Linked DNA regions of Homo sapiens: region 1 is linked to region 2. Evidence: fine-mapped expression QTL. A gene starts in region 2. The other region holds a variant in brackets. All regions are shown on one strand. Distances are between the middles of the regions. Region 1 overlaps ASB3 (ankyrin repeat and SOCS box containing 3). Region 2 holds the start of CHAC2 (ChaC glutathione specific gamma-glutamylcyclotransferase 2).

Region 1 (5,386 bases), 55 kb after region 2:
ATGAAAACATTAGTCTTAATTTCATGCCAGTTATCATCTTTAAAAATTTTTACTAATTGGAAAAGAAAAACTAGTTGGTACTTTAAGAAGGAAAATAGTGCATTTTCTTGATGCCAGTTTATACTTAGTAGAATGATGTTTTAAATAATTTATTAAACCCTAAAATATCTAACATAAAATTTGAATTTTGGGGGTTAAGGTGGTGCTAGTAAGGTAATAAAATTAAAAGAGCACCTTTTCTGTTTACATATAGGAACATTAATTTTGTTTCAAATGTATTTAAAGACCTTTTTATTAAGCAATAATAAGTGTAACATTCTGGAGTAAATATATAGCATGTAATAGTTTAATGTTGTTGGTAGAAGGTACACCCTAGACAGAAATATTTCTTTAAATGAATCAGTTGGTAATTCTGAAAAAAATTGTGCTATAGAAATGTTGCCTACATTTATGCACATATACAAACACTAAATTCTCCTGAATTTGTGTATTTATAGAATCTTGGACTTGTTAATACCACTTACTAACCGGGCCTGTGACACTGGGCTAAACAAAGTAAGCCCTGTTTACTCAGCAGTGTTTGGGGGACATGAAGATTGCCTAGAAATATTACTCCGGAATGGCTACAGCCCAGACGCCCAGGCGTGCCTTGTTTTTGGATTCAGTTCTCCTGTGTGCATGGCTTTCCAAAAGGAGTATGTATATTTGCTATGTTTTTATTTTTTATTCTTTTTTGCTGTATGGAGATGTGTTTTGAAGTGACTTTCTTTCACGATGAAACTTAGTATCTCTGTTAGTGCTAAATTGCTATCTTGGAACACAAATAGGAAAAAAACTATGATGTTTCAGTCAAGCTGAAGCAGAAATGAGGTGATAATATCACATTGTTTTCCTTCCTTCTTTGGATCTGGATTATATTTTTAGTGTAGCAATCTTAGGGAATACGTACAATTTAAGTAGACGCAGAAATTTGCTGATATTTTTGGTCTTCAAAACAATTCAAGAATTAAAAATGGGGCTTTATCAAGTAAGGCAGTGACTGCTTCAGGTCATTTACCGTTTCAAATTTATAAGATATAAGCCTAAAAATTAAACTTTAGTTTTATAGATATTATTGTGTTTTTAATGTATTTGGTGGATAGCATTAAAAAAAATTTTTTTTTTTTGAGACAGGGTCTCACTCTGTGGCCCGGGCTGGAGTGCAGTGGCACCATCTTGACTCATTGCAACTTCTGCATCCCAGGCTCAGGTGATCCTCCCACCTCAGCCTCCAGAGTAGCTGGGTCTACAGGTGTACACCACCACTCCCAGCTAATGTTTTTATTTTTAGTAGAGATGGGGTTTCTCCATGTTGCCCAGGCTGGTCTTGAACTCCTGGGCTCAAGCAGTTCCCTTGCCTCGGCCTCCCAAAATGCTGGGATGTCAGGCATGAGCCACGATGCCTGGCTTTATATTATTTTTGGATGTGAGTCTAAATAATTAAGTTTTTAAACGCCCCCAAATTAATTATTTTTCTAATCTGTCATAATTCTGTGAAATAGACTAAGTGAAGAATTACTGCTGCCTTGTTAGTGTCTGGCCAGTAACTTTGTCTATAACACTCTTACAGTTTTAAAACACTAAGAATAAAGCTGTGTGTAAGAACAGCCATATTGAGTAATATCTGGTCATCCAATAATGGAATAAGTTATGAAGATAGATGCTATTGTGTTTAATGACACAGAAGAGGTTGCAGGCATACCTCAAATTGTATTGGCCTTCTTGAATTCACTATTATGAATCTCTATTTAATTTGAGTAGTTATCAAGAAATTATTTACTAAGCTTTTCAGCCTTTACTATCTCTTAACATTTGCCATGTAAAATTAGTAGTTCACTATAATTTGTTTCAAGTTTAAGCTTACACGTTTTAGTAGAGATAGGGTTTCACCAGCCTGGTCTCGAACTCCTGGCCTCAAGTGATCTGTCTGCCTCCAGCCTCCAAAAGTGATGGGATTATAGGTGTGAGCCACCCCATCCGGCCTCTTAAACTTATACATTTTAGTTTGAATATTTGGGTTTTGGTTAATCTGAGTATCTGGGGCCCACTTTATGTATAACTTTCATGATTTCATAGGATTTTCTTGTGTACCCCGTTAAGTTTTGTCTTTTTAAACAGAAGAGCCCTAATTACTTTAGTTGACCTTCAGTGAGGTTGCACTGATAACTTTTAGTTGCCTTTCTCTATCCCAAATCTTAAGTCCGTTACAGAACTGAACATTTCTTATTAGACCAGAATATAATGATTTTGGATTGCGCGCGCGCGCG[C/T]GCCTGTGTGTGTGTGTGTGTGTGTGTTCAATATGATGATGGTCTTTTTTGGCCTTCATCTTATCTTTTGGATGAACAATGTTTTTGGTCCTTCTGGTCACAGCAGCTAAGCTCACGCCTCATCACCTTATAAGTGTAGTTTGAATTAAGCCATATAATGTAGTACCCCTGTTAACTCTGAAACACCTTAAAATTAATGATATTCCTTGGGAGCTGGGCAGTATGTTTCATGCCTTCTGTAGATTCGGATAAATGAAATTAGGTGGGAAAGATCTTAAATAGGTTTCTGGATTTTCCAAGATTAGTTGAAATTTTAGGGGGCAGACCCTTTTTTCTCCTTTGATTTCTACAAAATCAGTCAGTAACACTAATTGACCATTTTGTTATGTAGAGAGCACTAAATAGATCCTGTTAAACTTACTGAGGAAGCTGAAACATACACACGATCCTTTAGGAATTTAAAACCTAATGGGAAAAACAGTATTTAGTGGCATTTACTTCACTATCTTCTGCTGTCTTTGGCAAAGAAGCGTTTTTAATGTATTTTTTTTTTTTTGTATTTTTTTATAGAGACTCATGGAAGGGAAGGTTCCTATTTTTTTCTGCTGTGTCTGGGATAACTGCAAATAGGAGCTATTATCTCATTCTTGAATAGTGATATAAATGATTTTTTTTCTTTTCCTTTCACAAGTACTCCAAAGTTGTATTTTTAAGGAACTCCACAGTTTGGTTTGCTTTTTATGTCTCAGTTACTCTGTAGAATTTTTTTCTGTGTAAACTTCAGTGATGCTAAGAAGTTCTTAACATGCAGTGGAGTAATTCCACTACAGCCTCTCTCTTTCTCTCTAATGACTACAAAAAACTGTGGTCAAAATTCAAAAAGAAACTACCTGAGGACTCTCAAAGGAACAAAAGCAGATAGATTATGAAAGAGAGTGGTAACTTGGTGAAGTGACCCACATGAAAACGAATTTTCCCATTTCTTTTTCCTTTTTTTTTTTGAGACTGTCTCGCTGTGTTGCCCAGACTGGAGTACAGTGGCGCGATCTGGGCTTACTGCAACCTCCATCTCCCGAGTTCAAGTGATTCTCTTGTCTCAGCCACCCAAGTAGCTGGGATTGTAGGCATGTGCCACCATGCTCAGCTACTTTTTGTATTTTAAAAGAGATGGGATTTCACCATGTTGGCCAGGGTGGTCTCAAACTTCTGACCTCAAGTGATCTGCCTGCCTCGGACTCCCAAAGTGCTGGCATGAGTCACCGCGCCTGGCCTTCTTTTTCTTCTGCTGTGTTGCCCTGAGGGCCAACCCTGATCTGGAGCTGAGTAGCACCAGTGGCACCAGCAGCTAATATCAGTCAGTAACATTAATTGACCAGTTGTTTAATATAGAGAGCACTAAATAGATCCTGTTAAACTTACTGAGGAAGCTGAAACATAGACACAATAGAAAGCCTGTTTTTCTGGTCAGAGGAATCAGGTAAATGGAACCCTGTGGGCCAGAGAATGGTAGGGAATCTTGGAGAAGAGAGAGCTTGGAGAAGCGGATACCCTAATTGTGCATATGAATTTGCATATTCCTGACTTACCCCAAGCTTTAAATGCACAAGATAGACCCAAATTGTTTTTTATTTTGTTTTGTTTTTGAGACAGGATCTCATTCTGTTGCCCACACAGAGTGCAGTGATATGATCATGACTCACTGCAGCCTCGACTTCCCTGGGCTCAGGCAATTATCCTGCCTCAGCCTCTTGAGTAGCTGGGACTACGGTTGTGCGCCACCATGCCTGGAATTTTTTTTTTTTGTATTTTTTGTAGAGACAGGGTTTGCCGTGTTGCCTAGGCTGGTCTTGAACTCCGAGCTCAGGTGATCTCCCTGCCTTGGCCTCTCAAAGTGCTGGGATTACAGGCGTGAGCCACAGCACCCAGCCAACCCAAAATGTTGAAAGTAAGATTTGAACTATCATCAGAGTCTCAGGCTAGACCCTGAGTGGCACATTCATGGGTCCAAGCTTAAAGCAGGAAAGTCAAGGCTTTTGAGAACTGAGCTGACGTTGGAACCACTGTATAAGGTAAAACAGAAATTGCAGTTTGAACCTAACTAGGTTATATGCTTGCTGAAATAAACAAACCAAAAAGCTAGTGTTCTTCAAAGGATTATAACAAGACCCAGGACTCAGAATTTATACAGCATAACATTCACAATGTCCAGGAGACAACCTAAAATTATTTGACATATGAAGAACTGATAAAACATTACTAAATCTCATGGGAAAAAGCAATTAATAGATGCCAGTCCTGAGATGGTCCAGATATTAGAAATATCAGATAATTGAAAGCAGCTCTTATAATGGTGCTTCATGAGGCTAACACACTGGAAAAAATGAAAAGGTAGAAATTCTCAGCTGAGTAGTAGAAACTATAAAAAAGACGGAAAAATACAATAATCTGCAATGAAAAATTTACTACATGGACTCCATAGCCAAATGAAAGATATAGGAAAGAGTAAATTAACTTGAAAGTAAACCATTAGAAATTATTAACAAAGGGGAAGACATGCTGTCTGGCAGCTGGAGCGTGCAGACTGGCGTGGCACAGCCATGCAGCTTCTGGAGTTTCTGTTGGTTAGAGATTCAGGAGTAGCTTGGTGGGCAGTTCAGGCTTGGAGGTTTCTCTTATAGTTGCATTAAATATCAGATGAAGCTACAGTCATTAGCAAGCTTGACAGGAGCCAGGGGATCAACTTCCACAGAGGCTCACTGACATGGATCACTCATATGGCTGGGTGTTGGCAGGAAACCTCGGTTTCTCTCTATAAAAGCCTCCCCACAGGACGGCTGCAGTATCCTCATGGCATGGTAGCTGATTCCCTCAGAGGAAGAGGTCTAAGAGAGAACAAGACGGAAGTCACAGTGACCTGGTTCATTGAAATTATGGCTGTCACCTCCGCAGATCACATACACAAGCCCTGATTCAATATGGAAAGACTGTACAAAAGCACAAATAGGAGGAGGAAAGGATGATTGGGGGCCATCTTGGAGGCTAGCTGTCTCACACATTATCTCTGAAATTGCTGTTTTTTA
Region 2 (5,386 bases):
GTATGTGTACTGATACCTTAACATCATTCATGGGAATGCTGAGTCATAAGCCACAATTTTACCTACTTGTATGCCCAATGTCTGGCACATAGCGAGCCTAAATCATCCAGGCATTTGTGTCATCTTTGTTGCTATTTCCTTTTAGTCTTCATCTGTTCGTATAGATAATTTGTAATCATGGAACACATGGGATTTTGGATTATGATTTCTCATTTAATTTTCCTGTTAGTCTTCTCATACATTTTAATAGTTGCATAATATTGTGTCATTGATGAACTATAAACGTTCCTGTGTTCTTGGACATTTAGATTTCTGACTTGTTTTCTTTTTAAGATGATGCTACAATGAGGATATATATATATTGGTGAGGGTCAAGTAGATAATGCCATATTATTTTCAATTTCAAAGTGAATTAGAAGTTATTTATGCATAGCTACTGTGTGCTGTGGAGAAGATGAAATCTTGATTCTTGGTTCCAGTAGCTTATATTGTCATTCTAGAATGCAAACTAACATGTGAAATAAATAGAGCTAAGATATGGGCTAAGATGTATGGTATTAAGTGCAGTTAGAATTCTGAGTCTTAGGTGATCAGAAAGACACCTTTTTTTAGCTCTTTTTTTTTGAGACGGAATTTCACTCTTGTTGCTCAGGCTGGAGTGCAGTGGCGCAATCTCAGCTCACCGCAACGTCTGCCTCCCAAGCGATTCTCCTGCCTCAGCCTCCAGAGTAGCTGGGACTCTACTGGCGTGCGCCACCACGCCCAGCTAATTTTGTATTTTTAGTAGACAGGGGGTTTCTCCATGTTGGTCAGGCTGGTGTTGAACTCCCGACCTCAGGTGATCCACCCGCCTAGGCCTCCTAAAGTGCTGGGATTATAGGCGGGAACCACCACGCCTGGCCAGCCCCTTTCTCCTTTTAAAGAATCACGGACTGTTGTGTTGACTAGGCAATTTCTAATCATCAGTCTATTCTGACAGCATACATATCTCAATGTGTTTTGTAACACACTGTACATTTTCGTCAAGACTAGTAAAGTATGTTGTTATAGCCACATACATAAATATTTAATACTTGGTCATTATAATTGGAGCCTGGGCTAAAGGTTTTCTTTTCGGAATGGCAATTTTAAATATTCATATCAAAACTGACAACTCTCAAACTCCTGGCCTCAAGCAGTCCTCCTGGCTCAAACTTCCGAAGTGTTGGGATCAGAGGCGTGAGCTACCGGGCCCAGCCAAAACTGACAACTCAGAAGCCATTTAATTTAGCTTAGTTCTTTAATGTCTTGAATATTGTTCTAGAACATTCTTGGAGATACTTTGGCCATGACATTTCTGTTGATCTGTAAATGTGCATTTATCCTAAGCCATTGCCCCTTTTCAGGTCACTGTGTCCAACATCCCAATAGGCCAGTATAGTCTACTTAAAAGCCAAGTTCTTAACTGACCAACTCTAGTTGAGATAGAATGGTTTCTAATTCAGGTTCTTTTCGTGATTTTAATCCCATGTCTCTCTTATGAGCAGGTGCAAACTACTTTAGCGCCTTGATCTTTTCCACTTTCCATTGACCAATTTCCAAATTATTAGTTACCTCAATCTTAGTTTTCTTTATGGATTAGTTGTTTTGTAGCCAGTACAAAGCTGATTTGCATAAGCAGTGAGCTGCTGCTAATTCTCTATACATATATTGAGATTAATGTCTTTGTAGGACTGACTGAAAAGTGAATCAATGAACTTACATTTCATATTATAATTATGAGAACCATCAAGAAAGTAACATTAAAATAATGCTGGATATAGTAATGAGTTTGGTACTATGTTATTCATATAACCAGAACTTCATTTAACTTCACTAGTACTGAAAACCAAAGTGAGTTCCTTAATAACCAGCGAAAATTTTGGAAACTCATTCTGCAATCCTGTGTGTCAGAAAATAAAACTTTTGAAAGATGTAAAGAAATCCTAGAAGTAACATGCACGTTTAATCGCAAGCTCATGAAAGTCGGCTAGAATGCAGAAATGCCAACAAATTTAATTGCTAAAAAGCTGAATTTGCAACTTGATTTACTATTTCAACTCTGTGGTGACATGAGCATTCATCTTCCCGCCAATGGGACTTTTTTTCTTTTGGCAGAGGTTGCAGAGAGATGGAGTCCCCATCTCCGCACTCAGCCTGGTGCGAGCTCGTGCGCCTGTGCCCGCGCTTCTCGCCGTCTCTAGAGACTAACCACCGGCATCTTAAGCAGCTTCGGAAGGAGTGCCCGGGCTGGGTTAGAGATGGCGGGCAGGTGGCAGGGAAAATCTACAGAAATGTTACCCCAAGCCATGTGCTTTGGCCCCATGAAGCGCTAAGGTGTGGTTCTCTAGGGTGTGGGTGCTGTGTGTGGAGTTGGGGAGCAGGGGTCAGGGGGCAGTAAGTGTGGGGAGCTGACCGGCGCCTCACCTTGCCGGGGACCCCGCGGTGGTCCGTGCTGCCCTGCCAGAAGCGCCTGCTGTAGTTGGTGATGTATCCGACCAGCTTGTCCTGATAGGGGAAATCCACCTTCCAGATCAGGGACCCGTAACCAAAAACCCACATCTTCTCGCGGCTCCTCTGCCCCAGTGGCCGTGAACCCTAGCTGTCGCCGCGCCGCCGGGGACTGAAGCCTCCGGTAAGCGAGTAACCGGCCGCGCGGGGCGCAGGCGCGATGGCCACTTGGGGCGCAAAGCGCACTGGGAGTTTAGATCCAGAAAGATTTTCCGAGCGGATCTCAGTCAGCTTTATTTTATTTCCTTGATTAGGGTGTCAAGAGGCATTGACCTTCGGTGTAGTAAGCAATGGATTCTTTTGCAGCATCCGTAAATCACCCTAACCTACCTTTAGTGCCCGTGTGCAGAAAACTACAATACCCACAATGCTTTTTGGAGCTATTTGGCTCTGAAATTGGAACTGGGCTTATTTCTAACGGGGCCGAGGAAGGAGAAAAGAGCAGGAGTCGTCACTCGTGTCCAGATACGGAGGCGGTGTACCAGCACCGCAGGTAGCAAAGCACCTAGAAACACGTTTTGTTCTGCTTTGGAAATTAGATTTTTGCCTATATAACAGCAGCCAGAGGAATGTAATTCATATTTGATTTTATGTCCTGAAAAAAAAGTCTTTTGCCTTTCAAATAAAAGCAGAAAGTTTACAATAGAAGTTTACGCTTGTGAAAGAGTAGCTGTCATTTCAATGGGAATTGTTTATATATTTAAATTTTACACAAATTTATTCATCTTTAGTATTATCATTGGCTTGTTCACAAAAGAGCAGGCAAATGTTCTTAACTTGGGGCCCCTGTAAAGGCTTTGGAAACGAGCTGGGGAACCTGAATTTGTATACAAAATTTGGGGTGTACACTTTTCTAGGGGGAAACTACAGCTTTCATGAGTTTCTCCAAGGGGTCAAGGATCCTAAAATTTTTTGAAGATCTGCTCATTAGAGCTCTTGCTGCAAAATATTGTTTAGGAAATTCGCTTGGACTATCATGGCTGTGTCTCTGTGTGTGAAAACAGAAACCTTACCAAGTGATTGTTCTTTCTTGAAGATTTTTATACCATGATCTTGAATGCTAAAACACTCAGATTCAAGGGGTATTATTTGTTTTCTTATAAAGAAATCAGCAGGAAGCTGCTACCAGACAAACAAACAAAAAAAAAAGCAAGTCTTTTCCTATTTTCTCTAAGTTGTGGTTTCAAATTGCCTGATATGGTTGCTAACCCTTCTTTTTTGAAAAATTTTGAATACACAGAAAACTCAGATAAAAAGAGTGTAATGACCAATACCTTTCATCTAGATCCAGTAATTACCATTTTGCACAGTTGCTGTACTTCCTTTTTACTTTATTTATACTTTTAAATGGAGAACATTTGAAGTTGCTTGTGTTATGACATTTTACTGCCACATACTCTACATGTGTCTCATAAGAATAAGGACATTCATCCTAGAACAAGTTCCCTAAAAAAAAAGAATAAGGGCATTCTCCTAATAACTGTGATGCCATTATCACATCTGAGAAAATTAACAATAGTTATGTAATCAAATAAGTATTCCATATCCAAACTGCTTCATAGAGTCACTAACAAGAAATTGTGTCTTCGAGAGAGTCACATGAGAGCTATACTGGACTCTGACTGGAGGGGAACTTGAAGTGAGCATTGGAGGGAGGTGATGATGTGGGCAAGAACTCTGTTAAGAACTTTCTGGGCTATGTAGGAAAACCGGGCTCATCTCTTCATGGTGTTCTCTGTTGGTTTCAGTATGCTCAGTCAGTGGGTCTATTTGGTCAAGCATAGAGAATCTGAGTGTTTAACCTCTTCTGGAAAGGACAAGCAGGTGCAGGAAGACTAGAATGACACCTATCTTTCACTGCTTTTCTGGCCTCTTTGGGTTTAGTTGTTTCCTATAGAGGGCTGTATATTGAGGCTGAGCATTGCTGGTAGTTGAATGGCCATCTCTGCATAATGTAGTGTACACTGGGGATTAAGCAGAGGTGCTCTTATCAATGGAGCACCAAAGAGGGTGCTCTTATCAATGGAGCACCAAAGAATGCGTTGTGGTGGGGTATGAACAGGAGCAGAAGCCTACTCCTCAAACATTTCCAGAGGAGGAAAGATAGAACACTTAAAAGTCCCTTCATGTTTTTAGTGGGAACCTTCCAAGGAATTCCAATCTGCCAAACAGAGAAACTTCCTGCTTTAGGCACCAGCAGAGACTGTGGCATGGCAGTCACTTTCTGTATTGTGGGCCCTTCTTCGTCAGTCATGTGAGAGATACTAGACAGGCCCACCGTGATTTGCTGACCTCTAGGAGTGAAGTGTTGTTTTATTGACTATAGTATTATCCTTCTACCTTGTTTTGTAGACTGGTCAAACAAATGGATTTTACAGAGGCTTACGCGGACACGTGCTCTACAGTTGGACTTGCTGCCAGGGAAGGCAATGTTAAAGTCTTAAGGAAACTGCTCAAAAAGGGCCGAAGTGTCGATGTTGCTGATAACAGGGGATGGATGCCAATTCATGAAGCAGCTTATCACAACTCTGTAGAATGTTTGCAAATGTTAATTAATGCAGGTAAAGTAAATTCAAGGTATGGAGGCTTTGCCTACAAGCTGGATTAATAAAACATAAAAAAGTATAATACATAACTTATTAACAGTAGTATTTGTTTCCCTTTCTATAGTCATAAAATAACTGCCTGAATTTATTTATTAAGGATAGTAAGATTGCCTGCCTTGGATTCAATTAGTATGATACTCTAGTTGGACATCTTATACGGAAGTGCCTCTGTCTGGCCTCTTTTTATTGACTGAGCTAGGTGATATGGGAGAAGTAGTCTGCTGTTTGAATTTAAGCATTTGGTAGTTACT

Evidence for each region. PIP is the estimated chance that this variant, and not a neighbour inherited with it, causes the effect.
Region 1: its variant is fine-mapped to the expression of CHAC2 in whole blood (INTERVAL, PIP 0.97).

Annotation. Positions count from the first base shown.
Region 1 is chr2:53,709,693-53,715,078 of GRCh38, reverse strand. It overlaps ASB3 (ankyrin repeat and SOCS box containing 3), which reads left to right. Exons shown (of 10, transcript NM_016115.5): 7 at 498-695. GPR75-ASB3 (GPR75-ASB3 readthrough) reads left to right here. Exons shown (of 10, transcript NM_001164165.2): 7 at 498-695. Among named protein-coding and RNA genes, the nearest start is that of CHAC2, 55 kb to the left of the region's middle. The variant C/T (reference allele first, on the strand shown) is at 2,307.
Region 2 is chr2:53,765,081-53,770,466 of GRCh38, reverse strand. It overlaps CHAC2 (ChaC glutathione specific gamma-glutamylcyclotransferase 2), which reads right to left and starts at 2,663. Exons shown (of 3, transcript NM_001008708.4): 1 at 2,446-2,663. The coding sequence starts at 2,580. It overlaps ASB3 (ankyrin repeat and SOCS box containing 3), which reads left to right. Exons shown (of 10, transcript NM_016115.5): 2 at 4,882-5,090. The coding sequence starts at 4,895. It overlaps GPR75-ASB3 (GPR75-ASB3 readthrough), which reads left to right. Exons shown (of 10, transcript NM_001164165.2): 2 at 4,882-5,090. RefSeq lists enhancers at 2,132-2,321, 2,342-2,691.